Linked DNA regions of Homo sapiens. The protein of the gene in region 1 purifies or fractionates together with the protein of each later gene. This does not show direct contact. Each region holds a gene or a part of one and is shown in the gene's direction. Other genes may lie near its edges.

Region 1 (3,500 bases):
TTATAAATCCATTTTTTGTTCTTATTCTGCACACTTGCTTCAGGAGAATCTGTTCGACTCAGCAATATTTCAAGCTGTAGAAACTGGTTAAATTTGTAATGTAACAGCAAAAATATTCCTTGGCACTGTATTTAAAAATCTTGTCTGAGACGGTGCAAGTATTAACTCGTTTTTCATTCTTACATTTCACCCAGGACTATAAACTAGTTATACAGAAATAAGTGTGGTACTGAAAAACTTGTCCTTTAATACTAAAGCCTTATTAAAAATCAACTTTTTGGCTTTTCCTTCCAGGGGTTGGGAAAAACTGTTTTAACACTGTCAATTGAAAAGTCTTATTAAATAATGGTTTTTTTGTAGTAAATCCTCAACTGCAATCTGGTTTATCTTTCATTTTGAAATTAAAATCACTATTTAGGAAAAACCCTGCATGACAAAACAAGTTGAAATCAAAGCCATTTTCAGTCCTTTTTAGAAAAGATAGAAAAATGATAGACTAGAAATAAAGTTCATATCTGAAATTTTAAAACAATAGACTACCTCCTTCTCTTGGGGTACCACCCATCCAGCACAATCTCCTATCATTTTTCAACTTACGCTCCTGTAGAATAATTATTTATACTTAGAAATACGTCTCCCTGAGGCACTGGAGATTGAAATTATTATGATCTTTGAGTTGGAAAGGAGCATCTTAAGAGGTGGTCTAATCCAATGGTTTCCAAACTTCAGAGGAACTTTTGTGAGGAAGCACTTGAAAAAAAAAGGAAAAAGGACAACAGAACAGAGTTGCTGTGATTGGTGGGAGGCCTTGCCCTCTCAGTCACCTCAAACACCAGGGTGGCTCCAAGAACTGACACTTCAACGGGTTTGTTATATTGCTTCCAAAATTACAGGGTATACTAATCTGAAAGTTCAGTCCTTTCTAATCAAAATGACATTAAGACATGTTGGTTTAAATATGCCTGGAGTAACATTGGAAATTACAGCACTAGAAGATACCAAGTAGTCTTTCAAATATGACCTGATCATGTTAGAAGGTGATGGTAGTCACTGTACAGTCAGGAGGACTGATGTGTAATTAAAATACAGCTTACAAAAGCGCCATCTCAGATCAGCTCGACTAAGGAGGAGTTTGTCACATTCTGCAGGAAAGAGAAAGCACTTCTGCTATAGAGTTACTCTTTCTTACTAAAGTGATTGGCATGTCATTAGCATATGTAGGCTGGAGTGATCCCAAAGTTCACCATCCATCTTTGTTCTTAACTAGTAAAGTATGATTGAGTTTGATTAAATTTGGGTACTTTTTTTGTTCTTTGGAACATAGTTTATCAAAAACAAGTGACTGCCATGTCAAATAGTATGTGGACTCTAATTGAACTCTGTTCTGCTGTCATTATAGGAAATGGTAATGAGCAGAGAGACCAGGTAGGTGGTTCTCTGTGTTGGATTTTAAAAGCTTTATGTTTACCACTGAGTTGCTTAACACAGGAAGATGTAGAAAGAGACACACTTAATTACTAACAAAGGTAAATTGAGCCAGCTTGAGGAAAATAACAGTGGTGGCAGGGTATCTCAGGAGGGTGGGGGGGAATCTCAGTTCTTTTCCCATCCCCTGATTTGTGCTCGCATTTAAAAAAGCAAGGTCACATGTGTGGCTACTGTTTGTTCATCCAAGATGTGTGCCTGTCAGTTACTGTGCTATGTGTTTGCGGTTACAAAGAAGATGCACTGGAGTCGCGCTCAGTCACCCCCATGTGTTCATCGTGTCTGTATTGAATACTGTTGAGGCCAGACAGTCTTTTAGGCTGTGGAGATGCATCAGTGAATCAGACAGACAAGGCCCTTCTTTCTAGTGAGAAGAGACAGACAACCAACAAGACTCAAAATACCAGGTAATATAATAATGAAGTAAAGCAAAATGAAGGAGAAAATGTAGCGCTTATTTAGAAATTGGGAAAGCCTCACAAGACCTGAACAACAGGAAGGAATCAGCCAAAGAGATTCTAGGCCGAAGGCACAGCTGGTTCCTGAGGCAAGAATTAGCTTGATGTGTTTTGAGTGATGGGAAGGCGGCCTGTGTTCTAGTAGAGAGCGCTCGGAAGGCCAGAGAGACACGCAGGCTCCAGGTCACATAGTACCTCCGAAGTCAGAGTAAGGGGCACAGAGTTGTTCTAACTATAATGGGACTCTACTGGAAGATTTTAAGCAAGGCTGTGATGTGATCTGATTTGTATTTTGAAAAGGTCACTGGCTGCTGTGTACATAATACACTATAGGGACTGTGGCAGAAACTTCCAGTTGTCTAGAAATGTCCATTTAACTATTTGTCAGTAATTCTCTGAATTTAACTGAGCGCACAGTTCCCCAAAATGAAGACTATTTACCAGTTTCCTGTTGGTTTAGGTGACCATGTGACTAAGTCTAGCCAGTTAGATATAAGTAGAAAATGATGTGTGCAACTTAGGGGAATTGTTGTTTTTGTTGTTTAAACTTTTATTTTGAAATCATTGTAGATTATGGGCAAGTGTTTTTGTTTTGTTTTGTTTGAGATGGAGTCTTGCTCTGTCACCCAGGCTGGAGTGCAGTGGCACGATCTTGGCGCACCACAACCTCTGCCTCCCAGGTTCAAGCGATTCTCCTGCCTCAGCCTCCCCAGTAGCTGGGACTACAGGCGTGTGCCACCATGCCCGGCTAATTTTTGTATTTTTATTAGAGACGGGGTTTCACCATATTGTTCAGGCTGGTCTTGAACTTCTGACCTCATGACCCGCCCACCTCAGCCTCGCAAAGTGCTGGGATTACAGGCGTGAGTCACCGCGCCTGGCCCTGGGCAAGTGTTTTTAAAGAAAGAGAGAATGCCCTTTATCAAGTCATCATTCTTGATAACTAGAATGCAGACATGGGAGCTATAATGAAGATAGAATAGCTGGCACTCCAGCCTCATACTGGACCATAGGGTGACCTTGGAAATGAGCCTCTCACAGCTGGGTAGTGAGACAGAAGGAACCCAGGTCCTGGTATTTATAGAGCCTTCACTCTGATGCTTGACTCCCTATGTCCAGCTTGTTCGCATGACAGAGCAATGTATTTCTATCTTGTTTTAAACTGTTAGTTTAGGTATTTCTGTTACTCATGCCAAACCTAATGCTAACATAGAAGTGTGCAAAATCAGTATAAGAACAAAAAAATTAAAAAACAGATGGAGAGCTGTTGAATGATCAGAAGTGAAAAGTCTGAATGCAGTCAAGTAAAATTAATCTGGAAAGGGTTCCTGGAGAAAGCAGGTTTTAGAAAATGTACTTTCATGGAAGCAAAGAGGTCCAAGGTCCCTGGCAAGTGCAGATGTTCAGAAACAAGAAGTATTTGTTGGAGCCCTTATAAGAATAGATAGTAGAGCCTTCACCTCAAGTTCAACGTTTCCAAAATCGACTCAACTCCTTTTCGCCCACCCCTGCCCTGCCCAATCCATATTGGTCCAAACATGTCTCCTGCCACTACCA
Region 2 (2,179 bases), on another chromosome or scaffold:
GGGTGAGCAGTGCCCTCACGCCTGCCATCCCGAACTGGGCATATGCTTCTCCTCAGATCCGCGTTCCAGCCTTCCTGGACCTGTTCATGCAGTCACTCTTTAAACCAGGGGCTCGGATCAACCAGGACCACAAGCACAAATACATCCACATCTTGGCGTACGCAGCAAGCGTGGTTGAGACCTGGAAGAAGGTACCATCGGTTCTGGGAATTTGTGGATTTTTTAGGAGACAAATATCCTCCTCTGCTTTGATATTATTTTGGAATTTTGGCTGCAAGAAATCTTGACCCTCCCTAGTATCAGGCATGTGTTTTCTTGTGTTTCTGCGTAGAGAAAGCACTAAACGTCTCCAGAAAATGTGCGTAATGTCTCCAATGCTCTGCAAACCGTAAATTGAAATGTGACTAAAGAAATGAAACTGATTTCCGTAAGACATGGACAAACACTAGTCTCATTGCTTTTCAGTTTCTGTACACTGTGTGACTGTGAAGTTTGACAGCTGAATTGACTCCCAACTTAAGTAGAAATAGGGAAAGTGCTTTGCAAGAAGTGGCCGACACCAGAACACCCCGACAGCAGGGATATCTGCCCTGTCAGGCTCACCAGCTTGTGTGTGTGTTTTCAGAACAAGCGAGTGAGCATCAATAAAGATGAGCTGAAGTCAACGTCAAAAGCTGTCGAAACCGTTCACAATTTGTGTTGCAACGAGAACAAAGGGGCCTCTGAACTAGTGGCAGAATTGAGCACACTTTATCAGTGTATTAGGTAAGCAAAACGAAACTCAGTTCTTAAATCAGTCCTTTGGGGAGGAGGTCGTTTGAGTTTTCATATTGAAAGCTCAAATAACAAAAGCTTCAGCGATACTTGTTCATTTTATTTATTTTTTCATTTTTAAACAGTATGTAGGGAACTTTAAACAGCTTTAGCAGCATGAGTAATTTTCAGATGTTTATTTGCCAGAAGTCTGTTGAGTACAAATTAGGCTAAGTAAAAGATAGCCAGAGTTAACAAAAATTGATTTGAAGGGTCTATTTATAGGTAAAGTTATGCCCACAAAGTATTGCTTACATAGAAATGATTTGTGATTATGCCAATCATATAAATAGACGTGTCCTAGAAATAGTGTGTCCTCTTAGGCATGTCTTTCCCCTAATAATTTATACTAGGGATGAAGAAAGAGTTTGCTAAATAAAGGTAAACTTCAACCCAGTCCACCAAACTCACTGAGTATCACTCATTAATGATCTTTTCCTTTCGATAAGTGGTTTAAAGTGAGCAGAGAATTGAACTCTGCTTCTTGCACCGCATGTTGAGTGGCTGCTGATCCATTCACACTATTTACTAATAAGCAGAGCTTACGCCAGGCACAGTGGCTCTGGCCTGGAATCCCAGCAATCTGGGAGGCCAAGGCAAGAAAATAGTTTGAGCCCAGGAGTTTGAGACCAGTCTGAGCAACATGGTGGACCCTCTCTCTACAAAAAATTAGCTAGACATGGTGGCACTCACCTGTAGTCCCAGGTACTCGGGAGGCTGCAGTGAGCCATGATTGTGTCATTGTACTCCAGCCTGGAAGACAGAGTGAGACCCTGTCTCAAAAAAAAAAAAAAAAAAGGGTTGGGGGGCGTATTGAAGGGTGAATGATGGAGTCATTTGAGTTTGTTTTTAACTTTCCTTTAATGCTTTTCTAGCATATTTTGTGTTTTAAATTGTTTTTTAAAGGAAGCATTCTGCCTTAACTGTAGGTTTCCAGTGGTAGCAATGGGTGTGCTGAAGTGGGTGGATTGGACTGTATCAGAACCAAGGTACTTTCAGCTGCAGACTGACCATACCCCTGTCCACCTGGCGTTGCTGGATGAGGTAAGAGGGCGGAGAGCTGTTCACAGCCTACACAGTGTCTGTCTCATGCTGTTTACGTTGGCATTAACATTGCATCTATTCAGTGAGTTTAGAGGATACTCTTCTCAAAAATAGTTATTTCTGTCCTGAGGATTTTCCTCTTAAGGACCTAGCTTCATTGACTGCAGAAATTTCTTAACCTCAGTCAAGTGTTACTGGAAGCTGATGGCCCTGGCTTAGGTGTCAGGACCTTCTTCCACAGTGATAAGCTCTTTGGTGGCTGTGACAGTGCCCAGTTTCTCTGTGTGCTGAGCGTGACCACACTGCTCAGCGAAGCTCCCTC
Region 3 (3,500 bases), on another chromosome or scaffold:
GAACTGAAACTTGTATGTTATTAGTTTATTTTCTTAGACCAGTGTAATAATTGACTGTAAATAGAAATATAAATGTCACTTTACAGTTAGATGTATCACAGTCGTTTCAGGAGAATTTTTCCTATATTGTTACCTTGATTCATTGTTTAAAATTGGTAGGATTTGTATAGATATAGGATAGTGTTTTATTTATACTTTATCATAAGCCATAATCATTTTAAGAATACTTTATTGGATAGATTTTAGTACTTTTTAAATTCTAAAGTTCTATTTTTCTTTTCACTTCCCCTTCCTTCCCCTTATAAGATCATTTCCATGTCTTTGTTGGTGATCTCAGCCCAGAAATTACAACTGAAGATATAAAAGCTGCTTTTGCACCATTTGGAAGAATATCGTAAGTAACAGAAGATAAATAAAATCCTTTTAATTAGAAACAATTATATGTAGACATAACTTGAAAATAATTCTGTTGTGAATTTTGTACATTAATTTTATAACTTGAATATAATGTATTACATTGTTTAGAGATCATTCAAGAAGTTAACAGCAAAAGATTGTTTTCCCATTGATGAATAAACCTTTGGTTTTCAATTATCTTAAAATCCTTTTTCAATTAGCATAGCTCTTAAGAGACAAATTTGCCATTGTACATGTTTTACTTTCTTATATAGGTATCAAGCTAGCTTGGTGACAATCTTTAGTAAAATTGTGCTGTAACTAAGGAATTTAGATCTGTTGGGTACTTCTATGATACCATGCATTTTGTGTTAATATATTTTAACAAAAAGAAACCTTAACAATTCAACTTAAAAAGCAGTTATTGAATATTATTTTCTAGATATTTACACCCTTTTAAAAAAACTGCTAACAATAATAGTGCCTTAATAATATTTTATGAAGCACTGCCTTGCTTGCACTTGTTATTAGTCATACATTTTAGGCCCTTATGAATAAATACCTTACTTGAGATAGCATTCATCATAGAAGAACTTTAAAATTTTGAAAAGCATGCCATATTAGAGTAAGAATAACAAGTTGTTTACAGTACTTTCTGTAGAGTAATTAGCTTAGAAAACTTCTTCAGGGTTTCTGCTTGCTCTGTTATTTTTCCACCTAGAAGAATAGTAAAAAGGAAGTGCTAGCTGTGGTTTGGTTTGAACAGACCAACAGCAGAGATGAGATGAGGAGACTGGAAAGTAAATGCCAGTAGTATTGGTGAATTTTAGGAGCTTTCGTTTGAAGAGTTATCGTTCCTTGATTAGGGGATGTGACCAAGGAATTACCAACTTTAAAGGTGGTCACAGAATTAGGGCTTATAAATGGACTTCTTTCAGATGACATTTTTCTTTGTGAGACCTGATCAGGAAAATAAGTACAGCTTTCATTTCTTGATTGTCCTTCTTAATAATATCTTAGAGTTTCAATAATAATTAGCTTGCTTTCGAATATCTGGACTTAGACAGTCTTAGCCTTTGGCCTCTCAAGGGCTCTAAATCTCTATGCACAATTTTGTGTTTTCATTTTGGTGTGGAAAATCTTTGTAAATTTTATCCTATTGTCAGAGTAGTCATAGAACCATAAAAGGATAAAGAAGCCTGATCTAGATCTTTGCTGCTGCTTCAGAGAATCTTTTCAGAGAGAAATAAATGAGTTGAATATTTTTCAAGACTAACATTTTCTGAAACTTTAAGAAGAAAAAATTTTCTAACATTGTGAACAGATTAAGTAGCTATTTTATTAAATGCTTTGATTTTAATTGAGGTAGTTTTTTTGAAAACACGGGAATTTTAGTTTGGAATTAGGCAAAGATTGTTTAACAGTTGGTGAGTTTAAGTTAAGTGACCTTCAGATTTTAGCAATTTCATGATTTACAAATCGTGGGTTATATTTTTTTCTCTTAAATATATTTCTGTGTCATATTTTTAGTCTGTAGATTTTCTTATGGTCCCATGATTATTGGTGTATACTTTTTTTTTCTTGGTAAGACCTTTAAGTTTTATGATTTTCAATTGAGATAATGTATAATGTTTGAGTTTTAGGCTATATAAGGAATTAGCTTTCCTGCATTTAAAGGAATCATTTGGCAGTCAGTAGCATATTTTCCTGATTTTTTGTTGTTGTTAAAGGAGATAAGTTGATAACTGTATGTTGAAGGGTTCTCATGATATTCTCTAAAAAGTGCAAATATCAGTGCTTGATTTATAGATGTGTAATAAACAGTGGTCTGTAAAAGCATGTAGTATAAAAAATATGGTATTTTCCCTTATATACAGCCTATAAACTCTTCCTATTCCTTGAGTTTAGGGTAGACTAACAAATTACAGCGTAGAAGAGAGTCAGCTACCAGATTAAATGCATGCGTACCATACAGATAATTTATTAAGTATTTTTGCATATTGAACATTGACTTACATTAATTTTCCCTTTTCACCACCACGTCTTTGTCATTTTGACCCTGAACACTTAATAAATCACTCAGATTGATCTAAAATATGCTTATGTATACTTTAATAGAAAATTACATTGCATGGCTTTCTGACTTGGGTTTTTGTTATAAAAGTGCCTGTTTTGTTCATGTGTCCTGAGAGAGCAAGCATTGTGACATACCTGACTAACTTAAAAGCAGATTGCCTGTGAAGCACAATTTGAGTCCAATTTTTTGAGGTATGGAGTTTTAGCTATCATGGCTGGGTTTTTACTCAATCTCAAATAATAGGGCTCTGGTTATTTTGCAGAGTGTCTCTGAAGAATGGACAGAATTGCCCTGGCTAACTACAAGCTACGGTTCACAGTGGATAAATGTTGGCGTGCTTTTTTACTTTCTGACTTTTTAAAATTTTGCTTTTATATCTTGTAGTTCCAATCAATTTTATATGAATGCTATTATAAAATTCAGTGTAAAATCTTTTCTTGTCTAGCTTAAAACTTGTGTGTGTCTAGTATTTTTCTTCAATGATTTAACATTTCTGAAAATGTCAAGTTCTCAAAATTTAGACAAAAAGGGGGGTATAAATTGATCTGAAAAAATTAAATAGTTTAATTAGTTTAGGGAATATACAACTTTTTCATTCTTTTGGTTTCCAGTTTTCTATTTTTTTTTAATGATTAGGTAGAATATAGTGTCAAATAAGTTATAAATTGCATGGTTAAAGAAAGCCATTCATCTAATGTCCTGTGAACTTTATAAGTGGTTAAGTAGTTCATGTGAGTAGCTGCTTTCACCATGCTTAATATTTAAAAGTTTAAAAAGTTTTTTGAAGAGAGAGGCAATTTCTGTACAATATAAATATACATATATACTTAAGTTATTGATTTGCATGTCTATAAAATTAAGCCTCATTTCCTAATACATGATAAATTTTGTAGAATAAAAGGTGAATTTGCATTAAAGGTTCACTTTAATGAAGGTGAAACATGAGAATGAGTTGTGTGTGAAATTCTTATTTGATATCCAGAGGATAGTTTGCAAACCTAAACTTCTGATTGTTTCTGATTTCAGA
Region 4 (3,500 bases), on another chromosome or scaffold:
CCAAAGTGCAGGGATTACAGGTGTGAGCCACCATGCCTGGCCCGCCTAACACTTTTTTTGAGACAGTCTTGCCCTGTCACCAAGGCTGGAGTCCACTGGTGCAATCTCAGCTCACTGCAACCTCCACCTTCTGGGTTCAAGCAATTCTCATGCCTCAGCCTCCTGAGTAGCTGGGATTACAGGTGTGTGCCACCATGCCCACTAATTTTGTTATTTTTTGGTAGAGATGGAGTTTGCCACGTTGGCCAGGCTGGTCTCAAACTCTTGGCCTCAAGCGATTTGCCCATCTCGGCTTCCCAAAGTGCTGGGGTTACAGGTGTGAGCCACCACACCTGGCCAAGCCTAACACTTTGGAAGGCCAACATGATCAGTTAGCTTCAGCCCAGGAGATTGGAACCAGCCTGGGCAATGTAGGGAGACCCCATCTCTACCAAAAGTTTTAAAATCAGCCAGGTGTGTGTGGTGGCACATGCCTGTAGTCCCAACTGCTTGAGAGTCTGAGGCAGGAGGATTGCTTGAGCCCAGGAATTTGAGGTGGCAGTGAGCTGATTATACCACTGCACTCCAGCCTGGGCGACAAAGCAAGACCCTTTCTCTTAAAACAACAACAAAGAAGATTGATAATTTAATTTTTCATACTATCAGTTGGTTATACAAAAAACTTACTTTTGAAATTTTAAGGAATTACCACTATTGAAACTAATATTTTGTCACAGATGTTGATATACTTAATCAGAAATGTCCAGTTTTAGCCAGGTGGCTGTGCACTCTTGTAGTCCTAGCCACTCAGAAGGTTGAGTCAGAAGGGTTGCTTAAGCCCAGAAGTTTGAGGCCAGCCTAGGCAACATAGTGAGACTCACGTCTCTTTAAAAAACAAAGAAAGAAATGTTCAATTTTGGTTTTCTTTTTAAAAATAGCTGTTTAGAAGTAGATGATTGCAGGCCACTAAGTAGACTTGTGACATTGCCCCAAGTTTCATTAAAATGGGTCTTCATTAATTTTTGGAAATTCAGGAACCTTTGTTATACCTTGATTTTTACTTGTTTTGATTTGTTCTGTTATTTTTCTGGAAATCGGTTTACGTTAAGATTACTTAAAATTTGCATATTTTCAGAAATTGGGCAAATGGTTATGGTCATACTAGTAATTTTTTAATAAAAATTTTTTTAACCTTAAAAAGTTTAGACTTTTTATTTAGGATTCATTTAGGTTCAGCCTAGTGAGGGGCGTATAGCTGCTGGGTTAAACATAAGAGACTCTGGGCCAGGCACAGTGGCTCACGCCTGTAATCCCAGCACTTTGGGAGGCCGAGGCGAGTGGATCATGAGGTCAGGAGTTCGAGACCCACCTGGCCAATATGGTGAAACCCTGTCTTTACTAAAAATACAAAAATTAGCTGGGTGTGGTGGCGCGTACCTGTAGTCCCAGCTGTTTGGGAGGCTGAGGCAGGAGAATCACTTGAACCTGGAAGGTGGAGGTTGCAGTAAGCCAATACAGAGCCACTGTACTCCAGCATAGGGGAAAGAGCTAGACTCCATCTCTACAAAAAAACATAGACTTTGGAGTCAAATTGCCTGGTTGTTGGATCCCAGGTCTGAGTTTTACTGTTTGTGTAACCTGGGATAGGTTATTTCACATCTCTGAGCCTCCCTTTTCTCACTTATGGAATGGAGATAATAACTGTATCCATCTCATAGTGTTATTGTCATTTAAATGAGGTACTATACATAAAGCTTTTAGAGTAGTGCCTGGTAGATAGTAAGTGATCAGTAAATGTTAAATATTTGCATTAAACCTTCACTTGTGTGACTTAAAGACAATTTGTATTGTGAGTGGAATCTAATGAAATGTACAAATGTGCTGTGTCCGTGCTTCACCTAATGCTGATGCAGGTCAGCTCTGAGAGCAAGGGTGAGGCGATGGCAAAGGGGCTTGAGAAAAGTCGTGAGGAATTCAAATAGCTGGTTTGGGGAAATAGAAAAAGAGCCTACCAAGGACATGTGGTAGGCCACAAGGGCTAAGTGAGGTTGGAGACCTTGAGCCTGTCAACATTCATTAAAAAGTTGAAAGTACAGAGTTCATGGTTGCTGCACTTGGAAAATACAAACGTGAGTGATCCTTTTGAATTGACCTTACAAAGGATTTTCCAGTTCATTGATCCTGCAGTCTCCAGGCAGTTTAAAGTAATATGAGGCCAGGCACGGTGGCTTATGCCTGTAATCCCAGCAGTTTGGGAAGCCGAGGCGGGCAGATCACGTGAGGTCAGGAGTTTGAGACCAGCCTGACCAACATGGTGAAACCCCATGCAAAAAATTAGCCAGGTGTGGTGGCGCATGCCTGTAATCCCAGCTACTTGGGAGGCTGAGGCAGGAGAATCGCTTGAACCCAGGAGGCGGAGGTTGCAGTGAGCTGAGATCGCGCCATTGCACTCCAGGCTGGGTGACAGAGTGAGACTCTGTCTCAAAAAAAAAAAAAAAAAAAAAGTAACATGAATTAACAAGTGTAACTGTGTCTTCCTTACTTTATATAATAGATGTCAGAGACTTATGGTTGATTACTAACTTAAAATCATGAGGCACTTTAAACTCTGTCTTAAGTATAAAATGTTTTCACATAATTGTGATTTTAGGCCAAAGACCGGGTTCCAGATGTGGTTAGAAGAAAATAGAAGTAATATTTTGTCTGACAATCCTGACTTTTCAGATGAAGCAGACATAATAAAAGAAGGAATGATTCGATTTAGAGTATTGTCAACTGAAGAAAGAAAGGTAAGGATAATTGTGCCGAGATTGAGATCTTAGTGAATTCCCAGATTTAAAAAATTCTTATAGAAATGCCTTTTGGCTGGGTATGGTGTCTTATGCCTGTAATCCTAGCACATTGGGAGGTCGAGGCGGATCACTTGAGCTCAGGAGTTCGTGACCAGCCTGGGCAACATAGTGAGACATCGTCTCTAATAATAATAATAACAACAACAAAGATAATAACGATCATGACAACTAAAAAAAAAAGGAAAAGCCTTTTTCTGTTTTTGGAAATTGAATACATCCACCAAACTTTTTAAAGAGGAAAGTAAGTGCGGATATATGGTAATATGGATATGTAGTAATTATTATGTAATGGTGATGGGTTTTTTGTTTTGTTTTTGTTTGAGGCAGGTCTTGTTCTTTCACCCAGGCAGGAGTGTCGTGGTGTGATCATGGCTCACTGCCACCTCGACCTCCTGGGCACAAGCAATTGTCCTCTTTTTTTTTTTTATAGAGACAACCTCTCACTGTGTTGCCCAGGCTGGATGGTTAATTTTTTGACGGTTTACTGTTTTAATCTCTATAAGTTCCTGTATGTTTTAAGTTAGGAGAATACCCCAAGAAAAGATGCATTTGTTAAAAATCAAAAGTGTCAAGCTGAGTTCGTTGGCTCAAGCCTGTAATCCTAGCACTTTGGGAGGCCAAGGCAGGAGGATCTCTTGAGCCCAGGAGTTTGAGACCAGCCTAGACAAC
Region 5 (3,500 bases), on another chromosome or scaffold:
TCCATACATAAACAAAGGCATAAATAAAACAGGGAGAAACTCTTTCCTAGAATTGATAATATACAGTATATTTCTGTAGAACTCTTTTCCAAGCAGATGGCCTAAAAATATTCCACAAGATTGTAAACTCTGTAGAGTCAGGGATTTTTGTCTGTTTTATTCACTACTCAGTACCTCTAACCTCAGTACCTCTAACAATGGCTAGCACATAATAGATAATAAATATTTTTTAATAAAACATCATGATTAAAGGGCCTTTTTAAAGGATTTCATTAAACAACCTTCCCAAAGAGAGTGTGTGTGTGTATGCATAAAATGGGTTCTTAAAATTAATTCATTCTCTTCTAATTAGTATGTATCTTTTGTTTTACCTTTTCCCTATGAACTTTGGCTCACTTCTGATGACTGGCCACCCTTTTGATTGATGCACCTGTAACGTCTTCATGGATCGTCACTCAATACTCCACCTCTTCCCACCTGGGCTCCCAGGTAAGGCAATGAGCTTCCAAAAGTCTTCTCAGTGCAATCACCAGGCAAATTTTATAAGGCAGTCAAGAAGTTTACCTAGAAATAAAAAAACTCAAGAGACAATAATAGTGATTAAAGTTAAATTTGATCCCGTTCCCATATAAATCAATTATTTATACACTTAACATCATTTGAGAATTTCTGTTAGTACAGTGAAATAAAAATTATGGCTTTGGAAACTGCTGCATACTTAACTTTGGAATTTTCTGATCCTAGGAATCAATATATGGCTTTATGTTTTCCTTCTAAAAATATTTTCTTGTGTGTGTGTGTGTGTGTGTGTGTGTGTTTTGTCTTTTCACCCAAAGTTGTGTTGTTTTTGTTCACAAGGCCAAATTTTGTGGAAGGGATCATAGCCTCTCTTCACTGTGTAGGGACTCTAAATCATGGGGTAGGTCAGTACATTGTAGATTACTTATTTCTTGCGGCTGGAGTAGAAGACGAGCACATTGGGCTCTGGATGGTAAGTCCACTAATAGGAGTGTCTTGTCTAACAGATTTGATGTTAGGCCTCACCAAGTATATCGCTTTTGTTTCTCATGACATTTGCTTCCCCAGCAGTCTTAACAGCTCAGAAACAGGGAAAGGGGGCTTAACCGCACCAGAGACTGATAATAAAAGAGCCATGTATTGCTTCTCAAATGATGATTCAAAGGCTCTGCTGCTAGCCATGCTATTAAAAAAGGCTCTCTTAACTCACTTCTAAGGCCTGCAAAGCGTATTTGCTGTAAAGAAACATTTCTCCCAAGAAAATGCACAGGCTATATAGCCCACTTCGGGCATAAAAGAAGTGTTGCTACATTGTAAAATTCCTTGTTCTGGCATAATAAAAAACAAAAGGCTAACTGAGCCCATTTGAACCCTCAAATTAGCAACTGACCTGTGTATAACTTCACAGTCTCCGCCTGCTAATAATATCAGTAATTCACACAGTGGAATGAGTGTTTTGTGACCCTTAAGACATACATTATAAAAACAGCTGAGCATGTTTTTTGAATGGGGAGACATTGCTTACTTTGATGGATGTCTTGTGTTTGGGTGGAAGGGACTAGAGAGATGATTTATATATCACCTTATGTGTGCTTTGAATTTTCATCTTTTTAAAGAGCATCAGTAAAGTTTAATTGTTCTTTATTTTCCTTTTGTTATTTGTGTTTCGTATATTCCTGATAATATGAAAAATCCCTGCCAATTCCTCCTAGGACCTTTCAATCAGTCATTTCCATTTCAGTGATGCCACAGGGTTGGGTTTGGTTTGGGTTTTGTTTTATTGGCTTTTGTTTTTTTACCTAGATTCCCATTGCTCTCTGTGAAGGGGAATGGAATTAGCATGAGTGAGTGGTAGATCCATCATTCCCAGACCACAGCACTCCAGGGATCTGGCTCTCAGTGCAGCCTTGCCCCTTTTAGCCTTCTGATTGGGAATCTCCCCATTACTTGAGAGGAGCCAGTGGGGAACAAAGTGGAGAAGCCATCTATGAGCTGTTTCCCTAAGGTTTGGGAAGCTGGAGAAATATGCTCTTAAAGCACAATGGAAAACTTTTATTATTTTATCTCCTCTCCTACCAAGCTCTTGCTAGCGACTGGTTTTACTGTTCCTTTAACAGGTGGAGGATTTTTCAGATTCTAGATGCAGCAAGGTAAGTAACAATGTATTTTTAGTTTGACTGAACCCAAGTAAGCTAGAAAAAAGAGACTCTGCAGTTGCCTGTCCGTTTAATTTCAGTACAACAAATAGTTAAGTTTTTGGCTTGGACAAATTCTTTCCAGGGCTTTTTTTTTTTTTTTTTTTTTTTTTTTTTAGTTTAAAACAGCTGAAACTACCCAGGCTTGGAGTCTCAGTTCTGAAGGCTGACTTAGTTCAGAAGGGGGATGAATGTTCAGGGCGACCACCCCAGACAGGTGTGCAGTAGGTCATTAGCTCTTTTTCCTCTTTTTGCTGAAATAGGATGACACAGTAGAGTGTGTTGTTGAGAAGACCCCAACCGTTGGCAAAGTGTTCTTTACAGTGCTTCAGGCACGTCTGCCTGTCCCTAGGCTGGATTGTGATTTAGAGAACAAGTAGGTCAGCATTTCCTTGAAGGGAAATCAATTATTTGAAAATATCAGGGCTTTTAACGTATGTAAATACGTAGACTTGCATATTTACAAGTAATCCCATAGGCCAGAGGCCTTTTTGACATGAAGCCTGCAGGAGAGCAAATCTAATCAAATACAAGAAAGTTCCTCTCTGTGGGGAAGACGGACGCTGAGAATGCTCCCAGATGATGCCCCTGCAGGCAACAACTGTTGCTAAGAGCTGTACCATCATATTGCCACCAGAACCGGAGAGTCTAGCAAGAACCATAAGTCATTTTGGAAATGTGTGCTCTAGTCGCTTGGCACATTGTTTTCTAAGGTCATGATGCTCACCAGTACTGTCTTTGGCTTTTTGTAGGCTTATTGGCTCCAGAAATATTTACTAGTGCCTCTGTTTTTTCTTAATACCCACCTACAATCCACCCTGTGCTCCCTGGCCAAATAGGTTAGCAAGAGCAAAGACTGTAGCTCTGGCATTTCTCCACAAGGACAGACTCCCATTAAAATAGACTACTTGAGCCATTTTGGGGATGCCCAGTTTAGCTTTCTGTAGCTGGGCTTCCATACTCCCATTAGAGCCTCAATGGATTTACTTGACAGCTGAGAATAGTAAATTTAGTGTTTAATTTTGTAGTCAGATTATAATTTATTGAGCTAAATGGCACAGACACACATAGACACCTAATCACACAGTATTAGTATGGGAGAACATTTAAATATCATAGATTGGGTGTGTCATGGAGGCAAAGTACCAAGTTCTGTTACTAATGAGGTGACTTTTGTCAAGCACTAGCTCCACTCTGAGCCTTAATTTCCTCGCCTGTAAAATAAAATGGAGCGGATGACCATTAAGACAATGGTCAATAACATAGGTACCACTATCCCTATAATAG
Region 6 (3,500 bases), on another chromosome or scaffold:
TTAGAATATGTAGTCTTCTTATATTTATGGAGTTTCATGATATGGAACCTAATATTTTTGCCTCTGCTTGAGGATAGAAAACAATTATGGTAATTACAGGAGAGACAGAAATAAATGGAAAAAATGTAGATAATTTATAAAGCAGTTTATTACAAATAAAACCTTTAAAAAGCAGTCTCAATTACTTAAAATGCATCAGATGGATATTAGCTTAGATAAATGTAAGTACTTTGAATCTGGGCCAAAAGCCAAATGTAGCATAGAACCTATTCATAGGAGAAAGCAGAGCAAAACAAGAGAAATTGTTTAGAAAGCTTTAATGCTGCTTTAGGTCTCGTTGATATCTAAAGAGCATTTATATAAGAGAATTAGGGTAGAATATGCTCAAGAATGTTTATTGAAATAGTTGTGGATGGCATGTTGGGCAATGATGTTTTGTGGCAGATGGAATTTACATAATAGTTCTTGTAATCTGTGTCATCTTCTGATCTCTAGAGAAATTTAATAGAGCTGACAATAATGGAGAGTTAACATTTGGCCATTTTTGAAAAAGTATCTTTTGGAGGTATCAGTGGAATAACACATTAGTAATATGTGGAGACAATGTACTGAAATAGTGTCTCTGAGATAATATGTGTGAGTGTTAGAGCGATTAATAAAAAAAGTTTATTTTCAGGTTCTTAAGCTTACTGATTAATAAAACATTAATAAATGACACATAAAGAATATGATAGAATCCCAATTCTAAAGGATTCTCTCTCTGGTGGTGTCCATTTTTAATGGTGAAACCAAGAGGACAGTTGATTTGGGGAAAATGTTGGGTCTTGTGCTGGTAAATTGTAAAAGTAACTTATGCTCAATGTAAAACTGTCAGAAAAATATTTTAAAAACCACATGGAAGTGAAACACCCAGCAATAGCTGCTGTTATAATTTTTGTAGATGTACTGTCATGCTTTTTCTAATATAGACATTTTCTCATCAATAAATTTTCTTTATAAATATTTTGTTATAAGATTTCCTCCTAAGGTTTTAGGCCATAGTTCATTTCCATTTCCCAAATGGGAAGGTCGTCTTTTTTTGTAATTTTTTGTCCCTATGTCTGTTCTTTCCTTAAGATAGATTCGTAGAATTGGAATGATCGTTATCAGTGTACCATTGAGACAGGGCCAGATGAGGTGAGGGTGGCAGTTGCCTCAGGCACAAAACATAAGGGAATGCCAAAAAACTCAATAATCAAAATGAATATTTTAATGTAGTATACTTAAAAATCAAAATTAATGCAAAAAAATAACGAGATGTAAAACCTGTAGTCAGAAGTTTATTTACTTTAGAACTTTCTGGGTATATATATTTTTTTAATCCCTTGTTCTTCAGCTATAAAACTGATTTAAATGTAAATCTGTTCTTAAACTCATTCTTGTACAGGTAGGAACAGGGTTTATTTTCATTCAATAGGTACCTACATATGAGGAAGAGAAGGAAACAATGATACAGAATGGGGAGGCAAACTTTTTCTGTAAAGGGCCAGATATTTTTGGCTTTGTGGGTTTAGATGCCTGTTGCAGCTATTCAGCTCTGCTACTTTAGAGCAATAGCAGCCATAGACGGTATAAATGAATGAATGTAGTTGTGTTCCAATAAACTTATTTATGAAAATAATTATATGAAACAAATTGCATACAGTTTTTACTATCACAAAATATTCTGATTTTCTTTCAACCATGTGAAAATATAAAATCAATTCTTAGCTTTCAGGCCATACAAAAAGAGGTGGCAGGCTGGATCTGGCCCATGAGTTGTAGTTGCTGCCCCTGGTGTAGAATGTTAGCTTTTCTGTATAGTTGTTTTCACTAAATACAACTGTGTAAAACTATTTCCTTAATTTTATACTAGCAGATTCCTTTTTATGTGAGTAATAAGGATTTTTTTTACCTCAAGTTGAAAATCTGTTGTAAAAAATATCTTTTCAAAAGATACTTTGAAAGTGTCATTTAAATACTTTATTTTTTTGCTTATTTAATTCTAAGAACTTAAGGAAAATACATGTATAACAAGAGTATTTTCTCTCTAGAAGAAAATGATTAAGAGGGTTTTCTTAATGAGAGGCTGCAGAAATTATTGCTCCATTGAATTTTCTCTTGTTCACAGGTGGAGATACACTACGCCTTGACACACTTATAGAATGGTGGAGAGAAAAGAATGGTTCCTTTTGTTCCCGGCTTATTATCGTATTAGACAGCGAAAATTCAACCCCTTGGGTGAAAGAAGTGAGGAAAATTAATGACCAGTATATTGCAGTGCAAGGAGCAGAGTTGATAAAAACAGTAGATATTGAAGAAGCTGACCCGCCACAGCTAGGTGACTTTACAAAAGACTGGGTAGAATATAACTGCAACTCCAGTAATAACATCTGCTGGACTGAAAAGGGACGCACAGTGAAAGCAGTATATGGTGTGTCAAAACGGTGGAGTGACTACACTCTGCATTTGCCAACGGGAAGCGATGTGGCCAAGCACTGGATGTTACACTTTCCTCGTATTACATATCCCCTAGTGCATTTGGCAAATTGGTTATGCGGTCTGAACCTTTTTTGGATCTGCAAAACTTGTTTTAGGTGCTTGAAAAGATTAAAAATGAGTTGGTTTCTTCCTACTGTGCTGGACACAGGACAAGGCTTCAAACTTGTCAAATCTTAATTTGGACCCCAAAGCGGGATATTAATAAGCACTCATACTACCAATTATCACTAACTTGCCATTTTTTGTATGCTGTATTTTTATTTGTGGAAAATACCTTGCTACTTCTGTAGCTGCTCTCACTTTGTCTTTTCTTAAGTAATTATGGTATATATAAGGCGTTGGGAAAAAACATTTTATAATGAAAGTATGTAGGGAGTCAAATGCTTACTGTAAATGCATAAGAGACGTTAAAAATAACACTGCACTTTCAGGAATGTTTGCTTATGGTCCTGATTAGAAAGAAACAGTTGTCTATGCTCTGCAATGGTCAATGATGAATTACTAATGCCTTATTTTCTAGGCATATAATAATAGTTTAGAGAATGTAGACCAGATAAATTTGTTTACTGTTTTAAGAAAACTACCAGTTTACTTACAGAAGATTCTTTTTTCCAAACAGTAGGTTTCATCCAAGACCATTTGAAGAACTGCAAACTCTTTCTCTTAGAAAAGAAAGAGGGCAGCCTAAAATAAACGCAAAATTTGCTTATACTCCATCACATTCAGATGTCTTGGTTGTGACTTATTACCAGTGTGGCAGAGAACCCAAGTTACATTTTAGATCAAAATATTCTTTATGTAGGTATTGTTAAAAGGCTAGAGCCTACAAGTTGCTCTTCCATGCGTTGGTCAGGGGGCCCTGAAAACACTGGTAATATTAAGAGTCTTTCTCAGGGTAACTTAATGTTTTCTTAATGAACAGTGTTTCCAGCTACAAATTCTTCCAATAAATTGTCTTCCTTTTTGAAAAGTACTCTCAT
Region 7 (4,122 bases), on another chromosome or scaffold:
GCCCAGGAAACCAGACCGGCTCTGCCCCAGCTCGGGGTGTGTGTGGGGCGGGGTGGCCGCTGTGCGTGTACGCGTAGGGGGCATCCTGTTTGCTTTGGTGGCTTGGCAGCCACTGGGCTATTGAGGAATGTCTCTCGGCTGCTGGCGGGGCCGTCTGGGCCTGTCTGGGAAGTGGAAGCCATCGGCAGTCTGAAACATGACCACATTCCACCCAGCGGGCCTGGCGGGACCCTGGGACCCAGGGCCGGGCTTGGGGTGGTGGGCAGGGCAGGGTGGGGCTGTGGGGTGGGGCACATGGCCCACCTGAGGAGCCACATCTTGGGGAGCCTGGAGTGGGAAGGGGGCTGGCTGGGGTCTCTGTAAGAGCCTCTTCTTGGGCAATGTCCTTTAGGTTTCCTGTGGGCTGAGACCTGAGATAAATACCCGTCACCTGACCCTGAGGTCTCTTGGGGTACAGAAGGGTGAGGGGAGTGGAAGGGGGCATCCCCCTCTCAGTTGGCACAGCCCACCATTTCCCCATCCTATAGCTGAGCCCCTGTTTGCCCACCCCAGCCTGGAGTGTAAACCTGGGGAAAGGTTTACACGAAGAGACTGGGTTAGCAAGGATTTCTAGGGATGGGGCAGGGTCAGAAGCTGACTGGATGGAACTGTAGCCCCTAGAGTGCATTCCTGGGTGTCAGGCTCTGCAGAAGGGGCCAGTGTGGACACGGCACCCCTCTGGAGCCCCAATTTCTTTATCTGTGATGTGGGTTGGTCTCCGAGGCTTGATGGCATTTCTATGCTGTGAGGTGGGCCTGGTGGGTTTGGGCTCAGTTTCCAAGGCAGGATAGGCTCTCGGTCTCCTCTTTCTCTTCAGCACCCAGCCCCGGGGCCAGCACCGTGGGTGGAGCAGTGTGGGGTGAAAGACAGCAACTTTGGCGGGGGGGTCAGCTGACACTGCAACCCATTTCCCCACCAGACAGGGTTGAGGCGGGCCAGGCTGGGGTGGTGGCTGCCTGGGAGGGCCTGGGGACGGTGACGTCCTGCCTTCTCCTCTTCTCCGTATTAGGTCATGGGAAAGCATAGCTGGAGGGCCCGCCTGAATCACAGGTGACGGGCCTGAGACCAGAGGCACGCACACGCACGGCACTCAGCACGAGGATTTGGAGAAATGAGGCAAATTCCTGATGATGGGCGGGGAGGGGGCCCCCAGCCACCTGGGAGCTGGCAGGTGGCCAGTGGTGATGAAAGCCCAGGGGAATGGAAACAGAGGAGCAAGCCTGTTGTAATCGCTACGCCCACTTGGTGGCCTATAAAGGAAGCGGGCGAACCCCGGCAGCCCTACACAACTTGGGGCCCCTCTCCTCTCCAGCCCTTCTCCTGTGTGCCTGCCTCCTGCCGCCGCCACCATGACCACCTCCATCCGCCAGTTCACCTCCTCCAGCTCCATCAAGGGCTCCTCCGGCCTGGGGGGCGGCTCGTCCCGCACCTCCTGCCGGCTGTCTGGCGGCCTGGGTGCCGGCTCCTGCAGGCTGGGATCTGCTGGCGGCCTGGGCAGCACCCTCGGGGGTAGCAGCTACTCCAGCTGCTACAGCTTTGGCTCTGGTGGTGGCTATGGCAGCAGCTTTGGGGGTGTTGATGGGCTGCTGGCTGGAGGTGAGAAGGCCACCATGCAGAACCTCAATGACCGCCTGGCCTCCTACCTGGACAAGGTGCGTGCCCTGGAGGAGGCCAACACTGAGCTGGAGGTGAAGATCCGTGACTGGTACCAGAGGCAGGCCCCGGGGCCCGCCCGTGACTACAGCCAGTACTACAGGACAATTGAGGAGCTGCAGAACAAGGTAGGGCCTGCTGGTGGGAGGGGTCTCCGGGGGGCATGACTTCTTCCCCCCAACTCCTGCCTTGGCCAAAGGCCTGGAGTCCAGCCATAGGGTCTCAGGGAGCCAAGGGTGGTTTGGCTGTGGCTTAGCTTCTGGGAACCTGCCTTGGGGCCCCTGTGTGGCTCACATCCCCCTTTTCTGGGGACAGCAAGCTGAGTCAGGAACAAAGAGGCCTTGTGGAGCCCCTTGGAGCCTCAGTTTCTCCCTCGTGGAGCTCCGCCACCTGGAGAGGTTGTAGGATGAGGCAGGAGGATGCAGATGGAGGGCTGGGCCCGTGGGCTGCTGGATGTGTGGTGTCTTGCTCCTTTGGAGCAGGGGTCAACAGGAGGGGGTTTTGGGTGATGTGGAGTGGGGGTGTCTGAGTGAGCTCCTGATAGCACCTGCTGCAGGAGGAGGCAGAAAGGAGGGGGCGGGACCTCAGTGTGGGGAAGGCCTCTGATGTGCCTTATTTGGGGATTTTTCTGGCTTCTCCTTTCCTCCTGCTGTCCCTTAAGACGGGCTCAGCAAACCCCAGGGGGCGGGGCTGCTGGCTGGCGCCCAGGGTTAGGGATTAGGAGGGGTCCTGACTTTTGATTTGGAACCACTCTTTAATGAGGGCTCCTTTAGCCTCCTTTTGGGGGAGCCTGTCAGGGGCACCCTCTAGCTGACTGTAAAACGAGGGGGTTGCCCACATCCCCTCCCTTGTTCTAGAATTCTGGGACAGCTTCTGCCCTGGGGACATTTTCCCATTCTTTTCTGGTTGCCTCATACTCCCAGCCAGCTGTCTCTTCTCCTTTAAGGCCGAGCCTGCCATGGGGGTCTGGTGGGGTACTGAGTATCGGGGGAAGAAGAGGCACCTTTCAGCCCTTCAGACTCCTGTTTGCCCCTCCTCTGCCAATAATACAGCACGGGGCAAGGGAGGGGCTGGGCGAGAAGAGAGGCCCTGAGGCAGGAAGATCTGCTCAGAACCCTGGTGTGGGCTCAGCCACCCCCATCCAATGACCTGACTACTCTCCCTTCTCCTCAGATCCTCACAGCCACCGTGGACAATGCCAACATCCTGCTACAGATTGACAATGCCCGTCTGGCTGCTGATGACTTCCGCACCAAGTGAGTCCTAGCTGTGGCCTTGGGCAGCCTGGGCCAGCTGGCGGAGGATCTCAGGGTACCCCTCCTGACCCCAGGATTCCTTGGTTGCTTGTGGCAAGGCCCAGGAGCTCAGGGTGGGGCAGTCCTAGGAGCCCCACTCCTTAGTCCAGGATGCAGTGAAGGCAGCCAGTTCTGAAGGTTGCTGAGCTTAGGCAGGGAATAGAAGAGAAGGAGGGGAGGCGGGAGGCGGGAGGCAGAGAGAAGTAAGGAAGCTGGTGGGCGTGGGATCTGGCCCTGTGATGGTCCCGGGGTCCCGGGGCTGGAATTCGTTTCCACTCGACCCTCTCATCAGCCCTTCCAACTCCTTAGAGTCCTGGCAAAATGAAGGCAGGTGAGCAGCCAGGACCTGGATCTGCAGGTCCAAGCAGCCTGGGCTGAAGTCTCTGATTCCCACGGCAGGTTTGAGACAGAGCAGGCCCTGCGCCTGAGTGTGGAGGCCGACATCAATGGCCTGCGCAGGGTGCTGGATGAGCTGACCCTGGCCAGAGCCGACCTGGAGATGCAGATTGAGAACCTCAAGGAGGAGCTGGCCTACCTGAAGAAGAACCACGAGGAGGTGAGGTGGCTGGGGCAGAAGGTCAAAGATGCTGAGGAGTGGGTGGCAGAGCCCTGGGGCTGGGCAATGGCTGAGGCCGTGGGAGAGAGCAGAGCAGGTGCACCGGGATTAGTCACCTTAGAGGGCTTCCCTGTCTGCAGAGCCCTGATCCTTGGGGTCCAGTGTGCAGGGCAGACTCCTCTTTGTACCACACTGCTTCTCTGTACACAAGGAACCTCCCAGGGGCCTGCAGAGGCTCCCTCTACCTACCCTGCCTCCCTCATGAGGGTGGGGGATAAGTAAGGAAATCTTGTCCCATTTCAAACTCTCAAAGCTGAACATCTACATAGAAGCTTGGAAATTAGAGGGGAACTTTTGGGGGCATAGGCCTAATAATTAGATTTTATTTTGGAGAGTCCTTGGTCTAATGGGGGAGATAGAGTCTGATGGTGGAGGCAATACTGAGCAGATGAATAAAAATCATTTAGAGGGTCAGATAGAGCAGAGGGAGAACAAAGGAGGGGTCCTTGTGGGAAGTGGGGTCCCCTTGTGGGGGAAGGCTTGGGAGTGAGAGGTCAGGATGGGTCCAGATGCGCACAT

The links.
Region 2: the proteins of NETO2 (region 1) and NELFCD purify together in Homo sapiens (affinity purification with mass spectrometry; one large-scale study listed by BioGRID and IntAct). This does not show direct contact.
Region 3: the proteins of NETO2 (region 1) and TIA1 purify together in Homo sapiens (affinity purification with mass spectrometry, with the first as the bait; one large-scale study listed by BioGRID). This does not show direct contact.
Region 4: the proteins of NETO2 (region 1) and WDHD1 purify together in Homo sapiens (affinity purification with mass spectrometry; one large-scale study listed by BioGRID and IntAct). This does not show direct contact.
Region 5: the proteins of NETO2 (region 1) and HS6ST2 purify together in Homo sapiens (affinity purification with mass spectrometry; one large-scale study listed by BioGRID and IntAct). This does not show direct contact.
Region 6: the proteins of NETO2 (region 1) and TMEM168 purify together in Homo sapiens (affinity purification with mass spectrometry; one large-scale study listed by BioGRID and IntAct). This does not show direct contact.
Region 7: the proteins of NETO2 (region 1) and KRT17 purify together in Homo sapiens (affinity purification with mass spectrometry; one large-scale study listed by BioGRID and IntAct). This does not show direct contact.

Annotation. Positions count from the first base shown.
Region 1 is NC_000016.10:47,137,446-47,140,945, reverse strand, and holds part of NETO2 (neuropilin and tolloid-like protein 2 isoform 1 precursor), read left to right. Parts: intron 1-3,500. UniProt on the Homo sapiens protein: Accessory subunit of neuronal kainate-sensitive glutamate receptors, GRIK2 and GRIK3.
Region 2 is NC_000020.11:58,991,256-58,993,434, forward strand, and holds part of NELFCD (negative elongation factor C/D), read left to right. Parts: intron 1-56; coding exon 57-191; intron 192-625; coding exon 626-765; intron 766-1,742; coding exon 1,743-1,857; intron 1,858-2,179. UniProt on the Homo sapiens protein: Essential component of the NELF complex, a complex that negatively regulates the elongation of transcription by RNA polymerase II.
Region 3 is NC_000002.12:70,224,629-70,228,128, reverse strand, and holds part of TIA1 (cytotoxic granule associated RNA binding protein TIA1), read left to right. Parts: exon of another isoform or gene 1-306; coding exon 307-394; exon of another isoform or gene 395-2,735; coding exon of another isoform or gene 2,736-2,772; exon of another isoform or gene 2,773-3,401; coding exon of another isoform or gene 3,402-3,499; coding exon 3,500-3,500. UniProt on the Homo sapiens protein: RNA-binding protein involved in the regulation of alternative pre-RNA splicing and mRNA translation by binding to uridine-rich (U-rich) RNA sequences.
Region 4 is NC_000014.9:54,943,600-54,947,099, reverse strand, and holds part of WDHD1 (WD repeat and HMG-box DNA-binding protein 1), read left to right. Parts: intron 1-2,629; coding exon 2,630-2,768; intron 2,769-3,500. UniProt on the Homo sapiens protein: Core replisome component that acts as a replication initiation factor. Binds directly to the CMG complex and functions as a hub to recruit additional proteins to the replication fork.
Region 5 is NC_000023.11:132,707,130-132,710,629, reverse strand, and holds part of HS6ST2 (heparan-sulfate 6-O-sulfotransferase 2), read left to right. Parts: intron 1-2,135; coding exon 2,136-2,168; intron 2,169-3,500. UniProt on the Homo sapiens protein: 6-O-sulfation enzyme which catalyzes the transfer of sulfate from 3'-phosphoadenosine 5'-phosphosulfate (PAPS) to position 6 of the N-sulfoglucosamine residue (GlcNS) of heparan sulfate.
Region 6 is NC_000007.14:112,766,394-112,769,893, reverse strand, and holds part of TMEM168 (transmembrane protein 168), read left to right. Parts: intron 1-2,149; coding exon 2,150-2,697; 3' UTR 2,698-3,500. UniProt on the Homo sapiens protein: Plays a key role in maintaining the cardiac electrical stability by modulating cell surface expression of SCN5A. May play a role in the modulation of anxiety behavior by regulating GABAergic neuronal system in the nucleus accumbens.
Region 7 is NC_000017.11:41,621,776-41,625,897, reverse strand, and holds the start of KRT17 (keratin, type I cytoskeletal 17), read left to right. Parts: upstream 1-1,322; 5' UTR 1,323-1,388; coding exon 1,389-1,820; intron 1,821-2,865; coding exon 2,866-2,948; intron 2,949-3,386; coding exon 3,387-3,543; intron 3,544-4,122. UniProt on the Homo sapiens protein: Type I keratin involved in the formation and maintenance of various skin appendages, specifically in determining shape and orientation of hair. Required for the correct growth of hair follicles, in particular for the persistence of the anagen (growth) state.